2 separate regions of the Homo sapiens genome follow, and region 1 is linked to region 2. The links come from fine-mapping of genetic effects on gene expression. A gene starts in region 2. The other region holds a variant in brackets. All regions are shown on one strand. Distances are from middle to middle.

Region 1 (4,380 bases), 47 kb before region 2:
GCACTCCAGCCTGGATGACAGAGCAAGGCTCTGTCTCAAAAAACAAATAAATAGGCCGGGCGCGGTGGCTCACGCCTGTAATCCCAGCACTCTGGGAGGCCGAGGTGGGTGGATCAAGATGTCAGGAGATGGAGACTATCCTGGCTAACACGGTGAAACCCCGCCTCTACTAAAAATACAAAAAATTAGCCAGGCGCCGTGGCAGGCACCTGTAGTCCCAGCTACTCGGGAGGCTGGGCAGGAGAATGGCGTGAACCCTGGAAGCGGAACTTGCAGTGAGCCGAGATCTTGCCACTGCACTCTGTCTGCCTGGGCGACAGAGCGAAACTCTGTCTCAAAACAAAAAAAAACAAAAACAAAATAAATAAACAAACAAATAAATAAATAAATAAAGAGTGTTAGGAGCCTTCTCTCCTGTAAGCTGTGAACAACTAAGCTTGTTTAGGTCCTGAAATGTCACTGTCATTGTCAGCATGATAAATGCTTTGTGCTGTAATAATACAGAGAAACAGGATGTCTATTCCCCAAAGCCTCTGTGATGGAGAAGGTGGGCTTTCCAGAGGCTCTGACTGTGGAATGTGTCTAGAATCCTCTGCATGTTTTCCAGGTTCACCTCCACACCCTCATCTCTGCTCAGCCGGGTCCTTGCTAGGAGCAGGAACCTGCCTGGTGGGTCTCTGATGGCAGCCCCATGCTCTGCAGACCCCGGACTCTCCGCAGCCCCAGCTCCTGCCTTGTCCTGTTGTCTTCCACCAAGGGGCACCCTTCTTTAAAAAGCTGGACTCTTTTTTTTTTTTTTTTTTTTTTGAGATAGGTTCTTGCTCTATCACCCAGGCTGGAGTGCAATAGTGCAATCACAGCTCACTGCTGCCTCCACTGCCTGGGCTTAAGTAATCCTCCTGCCTCAGTCTCCTGAGTAGCAGGGACCACAGACACACACCAACACTCCAAGCTAATTTTTAAAAATTATTTGTAGGGATGAGGTCTCGCTATGTTGCCCAGGCTGGTCTCAAGCTCCTGGCCTCAAGGGATCCTCCTGCCTTAGCCTCCCAAAGTGCTGGGATTACAGGAGTGAGCCACTATGCCCGGCCCAAGACTGACTCTTAAAAAAGGACAGAGCTAGTCCCAAGCTTGTGCAAGGACAGTGAGAGAGGGGAGACTCAGAAGTAGCCAATTTTTCCCCCAGTAATTAATAAGACATTTAAAGGACTTATCAGGTCACCACAGCTCCATCATCCCTGGGGAATTGTTTGGTTTAGCAGAACTGTTCCCACCCTGCCCCCCTTTGCTTTCTTCTTTCCTTGCCCAGACCCCTCCCCCAACTTAGTTGACGTTGCACAAAGCTTTCAAAAAAACAAGTTTTGTTCCCAGGTCAGCTATATCCTCCCAGGAAGTTTCCCCATCCCAGGGTGAAGTCAGGCCAACACAGGGTGAAGAGTTAGGAGGTCAGGGGCGGGGGAGGGGCGGGTGTTTTGCACGGGACAAGGAGTTCTTTTTTGTTGTTGTTATTCTTTGCGTCATTTCCAGAGAGACAGGAAGGAAAACATAGTAAACATTCTTCAATTCTGCACAAAAGCCGAGAAGGGATTTTCTTCAGGAACCTCCTTGTGGCTCTGCCATGGCGGGGAGGGTTGGGGGTAAGAAATATAAGACCCAATTCCCTGTGGAGGCGGGGATTCGGTGAAACCAATCCCTTGAATGTGGGGTGGAACCAACATGTAACTCAATTTGCTTTGGCTCTCACTGTGCATTTGAGCTAAAGCAAGGGAAGCATTTCCCCTTCCCCTGGCTGAAAGCTCAGCTGACCCCGAGGCTCTTCTGGTCATGCTTAGGTATG[T/C]ACATTTTATGTCACGAAATCCAGTATCGACTTAGAGATTTAAAGCAGCCACCCAAAGATATTAAATGACTCTTGCATTTTTCTTCAAAGAGAAATCTTCTTCCTCCTGCCCTAGTTAAGGCCTTAGTTGGGGGCTGCCAGCTGCCAGGGACTGGGCATGGTGGCTTTTGTCTATTCTCTCCCGAATACCCCTCTCCCCACTTGCTGGTTGCTTTCAGAGTCTAAGTGGAGGTGGTGGGTGAGGATGCAGGGAAGCGGATGGGGAGCAGGGGAATAGGGCAGTTTTTACTTGACTGTATGATTGCCAGCTCTCTGGGTGTGGCAGATGGTGAAAGCTCTTTCTGGAGGGTTCCCTGTGTTCTTCAGAAGTTCCCATCTCAGCCAGGCTTGGTGGCTCACGCCTATAATCCCAGCACTTTGGAAGGCGGAGGCGGGCAGATCACTGGAGCCCAGGAGTACTAGACCAGCCCGAGCAACATGGCTAAACCTCATCTCTACCAAAAATACAAAAAGTATCTGGGGGTGGTGCTGCACGCCTGTAGTCCCAGCTACTTGGGAGGCTGAGGCAGGAGGATTGCTTGAACCCAGGAGGTAGAGGTTGCTGTGAGCCGAGTTTGGGCCACTGGACTCCAGCTTGGGCAACAGAGTGAGACCCTGTCTTAAAAAAAAAAAAAAAAAAAGTTCCCATCTCTAAGGTTTTCTCCTGAAGTTCCCTGTTCTGCACCTCCATTTCAGGTACAGCTATGACTCCATCTTCAACCCCTAGAAATCCAGCATCCTCTTCCAACTTCTTTCTGCTGACATCCCTTTGCCCTTCTCAGAGGCCCTACAGGACTTAAAATGACCCCCACCTTGGCCCTCTCTCCTGCCATGGTCCATCTGATCCACATGTGGCCCATGGGAAGAACTCACACAGCCCCTTCACTCATCCTAATGCAGTCCCTCCTGGCACAGTCCCATGGGGGCCCACAGCTCCAAGTGGCTGCATGGAAGCCCCCATCACTAGGCTTGAGTTGAAAGCAGTAGGGCCCCTAACTCCTTGGTGGGGTAGCTTACAGCATGGCTTTGCCCTTTCTGGAAGTTTCTATTTCCAAACTCTCCCCATTCTCCACACTCTATATTGTTGGTAGGCTGAGGGCCCTGAGTGCTATGCAACTGGTTCCCCATTATTTCCTTTGTAAATACTACATATGGGAGTCTGTCTCATGTTCAGTTTGCTATCTGATGATATTGTGGTAGCCTGCTTCCACAATGGCCCCTCATTGTCCCCATCTCCTGGTATTCACATCATTGTGTCTCCTCCCTCCGTGAACAGGGCCGACCCTTGTAGCCACTTGCTATTGCAGAGCTGATGGCATGCATCTTCTGAGGCTAGGTCATTGTTGTGTGTTTAATGATGTCCCCCAGAAGATATGTTGCAGCCCTAACCCCCAGGGCCTATAAATGTGACCTTTTCTGGAAATAGTCTTCGCAGTTGTAATCAAGGGTTGTTCTTGACTAGAGTGGGCCCTACATCCAATGACTGGTGTTCTCATAAGGAGAGAGAGACAAAGAGTAGACAGACACAAGGGAGAAGGCCGTGTGAAGATGGAGACAGAGATTGGAATGATACAGCCACAAGCCAAGAAACATCTGCGGCCGTCAGAAGTTGGAAGAGGCAAGGAATGATTTATTCTTTCCCACTCATTGTTTCACCAATGAGCACCTTCCATGTGCCACCGTTCTGACCCTGCTGACAATGTGGTTTCAGACTTCTGGCCCCCAGAACTGTGAAAGAGTAAATTTCTGTTAAGTTATCTTGCTTGTGGTACTTTGTTACAGCAGCCCTGTGGATCTAATATAGTCATAAGAGACATTGTGACCTCCTCCCTGCTCTCTTGAACCACTCATTCTGGGAGAAGTCAGCTGCCATGTCATGAAGCTACTCAGGGAGGTCCATGGAGAGGTCCACATGGCAAGGAACTGAGGCCTCCTGCCAGTAGCCAGCACCATCTTGCTGGCCATGTGAGCGTGCCATCTTAGATGCAGATCATACGGCCCCAGTCAAGCCTTCAAATGACTGCATCCCTACTTGACATTTTGACTGTAACCTCATGACAAACCCTAAGCCAGAACACCAGCTAAGCCACTCCCCAATTCCTCATCAAGAGAAACTGAGATAATAAATGTTTATTATTGTTTTAAGCTACTAAATTTTGAGGTAATCTGTTATGTAGCAATAGATAACTAATACTGATATCTGTCATATTGGGGCCTCAGTGTAACTTGGAACAGAAAGAGTTCCATATTATAATTCTTAAACATTACTTGGAATGGTTAGGGGCCCCAGTGCTATTCTCTCTGGGGATATTTCCAGCAATGGGCCCCACAGCCATTTATAGTGAGTTGTCCCACTTACTCTTTCACCAGTGAGCACTTTCCATGTGTCAGATGCCATATTAGAGACTGGGGCTATAGAAATGAACAGTCTTTTGGGAGGCCGAGGCAGGTGGATCACCTGAGGTCAAGAATTTGAGACCAGTCTGACCAACATGGAGAAACCC
Region 2 (4,380 bases):
GTATATAGAACTCAGTGGTACAAATGCGCTTGGAAGGGGAGGCTGGGGGTTGGTTATGAAGGTGTATTGGCATAGTACTTACGTAAGATTGTATGTAACACCAAATCAACTGGGGCTGATGGGAATTTTGAGCACCCCAAACCACCTCTGCAAGCCTGAGCTTGTCAAAGACACCTCAAATCAGATTTACTGGATTCAAATCCCAGCCCCATCACTAATGGCTGTAGGCAAGTTATATAGCCTCTTTACTTTCCTGGTTTGTAAAATGGAGGTAAAAGAATCTACCCTGTAGATAATATTAAGGGTTTAATACTGTAATAGGCCGGTCACGGTGGGTCATGCCTGTAATCCCAGCACTTTGGGAGGCTGAGGCGGGAGGATCACCTGAGGTCAGGAGTTCGAGACCAGCCTGGCCAACATGGTGAAAGTCCGTCTCTACTAAAAATACAAAAATGAGCTGGGTGTGGTGGCGGGCGCCTGTATCCCCAGGTACTTGGGAGACTGAGGCAGGAGAATTGCTTGAACCTGGGAGGTGGAGGTTGCAGTGAGCTGAGATTGCGTCACTGTACTCCAGCCTGGGTGACAGAGTGGACTCTGTCTCAAAACAACAACAAAATACTATAGATAATATCCCCTTAATAATGTAGATAATATTAAGGGTGATGCAAGTAAAGCCACCTAGTTTACTAAGGTCCCACGGCAAGTCTAAGTAAGCGTTATCTCTTCTTATGACAAGAAACAAATTGAGGCCGGGTGAGGTGGCTCATGCCTGTAATCCCAACACTTTGGGAGGCCAAGGTGGGTGCATCACTTGGGCCCAGGAGTTTGAGACCAGCCTGGGCAACACGGCAAAACCCCATCCCTTTCCAAAAATACAAAAAAATTGGCCAGGTGTAATGGCACATGCCTGTAGTCCCAGCTACTAGGGAGGCTGAGGTGGGAGGATTACTTGAGCCTGGGAGGTCAGGCTGCTGCCAGCCGCGAGTGTGCCACTGCACTCCAGCCTGGGCAACAGAACAAGATCCTATCTCAAAAAAACAAAAAACCGAAGTTGAAATCTCAAACAACCCTAACAACCTGGGAGCTATCATTCCATTCTCTTTTCCATGGAAAAGAGAGATTTTGTGGGTAACTAGCTTAAGGGTGGAGAGCCAGTTAGTGATGGAGAGGAAATTTCAATCTGGTGGGCCACACTTCAGAATCCGAAATCCCATTATATTGCTTTCCCTTCTCCAGCCTTCCCTGGGATTATCTCAGTTTTCATGAAATAAAAAAAAAAAAAAAAGCAAACCCAATAATTAGAATAATCAATAGAAATGCCCCAACTAGAGCTATGACCAACATATCCATCGTGCCATAAGCAATACTGATGAGCAGTGATCTTGTAAGGCAGAAGAAATCACGGCCTTGGCCGGGCGTGGTGGTTCATGCTTGTAATCCCAGCACTTTGGAAGGCCGAGGCGGGAGGATCACCTGAGGTCAGGAGTTCAAGACCAGCTGGCTAACATGGTGAAACCATGTCTCTACAAAAATACAAAAAATTAGCTGGGCCTGATGGCGGGTGCCGGTAATCACAGCTACTTGGGAGGCTGAGGCGGAAGAATCGCTTGAACCTGCGAGGCAGAGGTTGCAGTGAGCCGAGATCGCGCCATTTTGCACTCCAGCCTGGGCGACAGAGCAAGACTCCGTCTTAAAAAAAAAAAAAAAAAAAAATCACGGCCTTGTTCCGCCTTCTGGGGCAACATGGAGTGAGATCACAGCGCCTGAGAAAGAACTTTGAAAACTGCGGCTGTGCTTTACAAAAATGTATCAGTATTATTAAATGCTGCCTCCACCTTTTAAAAATCAAACTCTAGAAAAAACACTCACCTGTTTGGCCTCTCCGGCCCCTCCCCCTCCCTGCCCTGAACTGCAGCTGTGCGCAGCCAGTTGCCTGTTTTCCTTAAAGGCCTCGGGGTGCTCGTATCTTCTTCAGACGTTCAGCCAAAATTTTTAAAGTGCGGCTGGGGGGAAGGGTAGCGCACTCTGAATTCATTTAGCTCTATCGTTGAAGCCCGGGTTCCTAGATCAGGGCACAAAAACAAATAGAAAAGACAATTTCTGGAAGATTGGAAAACAGCTAATTTTGCAGGTGCTTCGGCATCAGTGGTGGCGATGAATTTAACATCCATGCCGGGGGGGATAAGGTTCAACCGCAGATGAAATGGTTAATACCTTATACGAAATTCACGGCGAAAAATCCTGAAACAGGACATTTAAATTCACTGCCGAGGCTTGGGGGTGGGGTGGGGAGCAGGGATCGGAAACGACGCTAGTGGTTCTTAAATGCGTTTTTACTTGGGAATGCCCGGCAGGGAAAGGAAAGGTCATCGTCTGTTTAATTTCCACCCCCAGCTCTGGACTTCCAGCATTAGCTCGCCGGGCCTCAGCTGTTGTACACACACGGCGAGGGGGGAGGGGAGGGCGGAGGCGCGGAGGAGGGGCCGGCTGGGAGGAATCTGGGCGTCCTGCCGCGCATGCGCCTTGCCTGAGCAACAAGTGGGCTCCACAGAGGAAGTGTAAAGGGGAGGGGGAAGAACTGGTGCAGAGCATGGCGGTGACGTCAGCGCTCCGCCCGGGCGGCATCCCGCGCGGCCAAGCCGGGGACAGCGCGAGCCGCAGCCGGAGCAGGAGCGCCGAGACGCGCCTCCGGAACGTAGAGTAACAATCACAACCCCACATTCCGGGCGAGCGTGAGCACGAGCGGGAAGGGATGCGACCCGGGCCGAGGCGCCGCGCGAGCGCCCTGCAGCCAACGTGAGCGCCGCCAGCCGCGGCGGCCCGGGCGCCGGCCAGGCCTGGGGGCGGCGGGAGCCTGCGTGCGTGCACTCCTCTCCTCTGCTCTCGTGCGTCCTGGAAGCAGTGGCCGCGGCGGCTCCCTCCGGGGTGCAAACCCAGTCGCCGCCAGCAGAACGGCCGACGCTGCGGAGGGGAGAAGGTCCTTTCTCGGCTGCCACCCCCTCCCCCGGTCCTCCGGGGAAGCAGCGGCTTCAGCAAGATTGGACCCGGGCACCGGGTGGCACTGAACCCTCTGGCCCTCGCCCCAGGGGGCCCGTCGGGGAGAGGACGCAGCTCGTAGGGGGGTCCCCGGGGAGAGGAAGAGACAGCCCCTTTCGAGCTTCCACGCACCAGCCACTCCGGGGAGGGGGCCAAGAGGCAACGGCGGCCACCACCGGGCACCCTCGCCCCCTCCCCTCGGGCCGGGAGCTTCCAGCCCAAGTCTGCAGCACCAGGAAGAAGGCGCCTGAGCTCCCCTCGCGACGAGTCAACCGCAGTAGGAGGTGGGGGCGAAGAGAGGGCTGAACCCGTCCGCTGCCCGGGCGGTGGAGCCCCCACGGCGAGGCGCTGCGCCGGCGGTGGAGACTCGCGTTCCCTCCAGCCCCTGGGGCAGAACTTTCTCGCCCCCCCTCCTCCCTCCCCCGCAGTCGGACTCCCTCCCCAGCCGGCCAGTCCTCCCGGAGGAGAAGGCGCCGCGGAGACAGCCCGGGCGGGGGCCTACCTTCCCCAGGGCAGGCATCATGTCGGCGGCGCAGGTGTCCTCGTCCCGGAGACAATCTTGCTACCTGTGCGACCTGCCCCGCATGCCCTGGGCCATGATCTGGGACTTCTCGGAACCCGTATGCCGCGGTTGCGTCAACTACGAGGGCGCTGATCGCATCGAATTCGTGATCGAGACAGCGCGCCAGCTGAAGCGGGCGCACGGCTGCTTCCAGGACGGCCGCTCCCCCGGGCCGCCGCCGCCCGTCGGGGTCAAGACAGTGGCCCTGTCGGCTAAGGAAGCGGCGGCGGCGGCGGCAGCAGCGGCGGCCGCCGCCGCCGCCGCGCAACAGCAACAGCAACAGCAGCAGCAGCAGCAGCAACAGCAGCAGCAGCAGCAGCAGCAGCAGCAGCAACAACAGCTCAACCACGTTGATGGTTCCAGCAAGCCTGCGGTGCTGGCGGCCCCGTCTGGCCTGGAGCGCTACGGCCTAAGCGCTGCCGCCGCCGCCGCCGCCGCCGCCGCCGCTGCGGTGGAACAGCGCAGCCGCTTCGAGTACCCGCCACCGCCGGTGAGCCTGGGAAGCAGCAGCCACACCGCGCGACTGCCCAACGGCCTGGGGGGCCCAAACGGCTTCCCCAAACCAACACCAGAGGAGGGACCCCCAGAGCTGAACCGTCAGAGCCCCAATTCTTCTTCAGCGGCGGCGTCGGTGGCGTCTCGGCGTGGAACGCACGGTGGGCTGGTTACGGGGCTGCCCAACCCGGGGGGTGGCGGAGGCCCCCAGCTCACCGTGCCCCCCAACCTGCTACCGCAGACGCTGCTTAACGGCCCGGCCAGCGCTGCGGTACTCCCCCCACCCC

Evidence for each region. PIP is the estimated chance that this variant, and not a neighbour inherited with it, causes the effect.
Region 1: its variant is fine-mapped to the expression of IRF2BPL in whole blood (TOPMed, PIP above 0.99).

The regions. Positions count from the first base shown.
Region 1 is chr14:77,073,557-77,077,936 of GRCh38, reverse strand. It overlaps LINC02289 (long intergenic non-protein coding RNA 2289), which reads left to right and starts at 1,746. Exons shown (of 3, transcript NR_110553.1): 1 at 1,746-1,832. RefSeq lists a silencer at 1,597-1,891. The variant T/C (reference allele first, on the strand shown) is at 1,838.
Region 2 is chr14:77,026,970-77,031,349 of GRCh38, reverse strand. IRF2BPL (interferon regulatory factor 2 binding protein like) reads left to right here and starts at 2,642. Exons shown (of 1, transcript NM_024496.4): 1 at 2,642-4,380. The coding sequence starts at 3,558. LOC107984638 (a long non-coding RNA gene) reads right to left here and starts at 3,882. Exons shown (of 4, transcript NR_190002.1): 1 at 3,539-3,882; 2 at 1,870-2,062; 3 at 1,614-1,689; 4 at 1-1,523. RefSeq lists an enhancer at 1,069-1,589 and silencers at 2,353-2,482, 2,683-2,892, 3,013-3,512.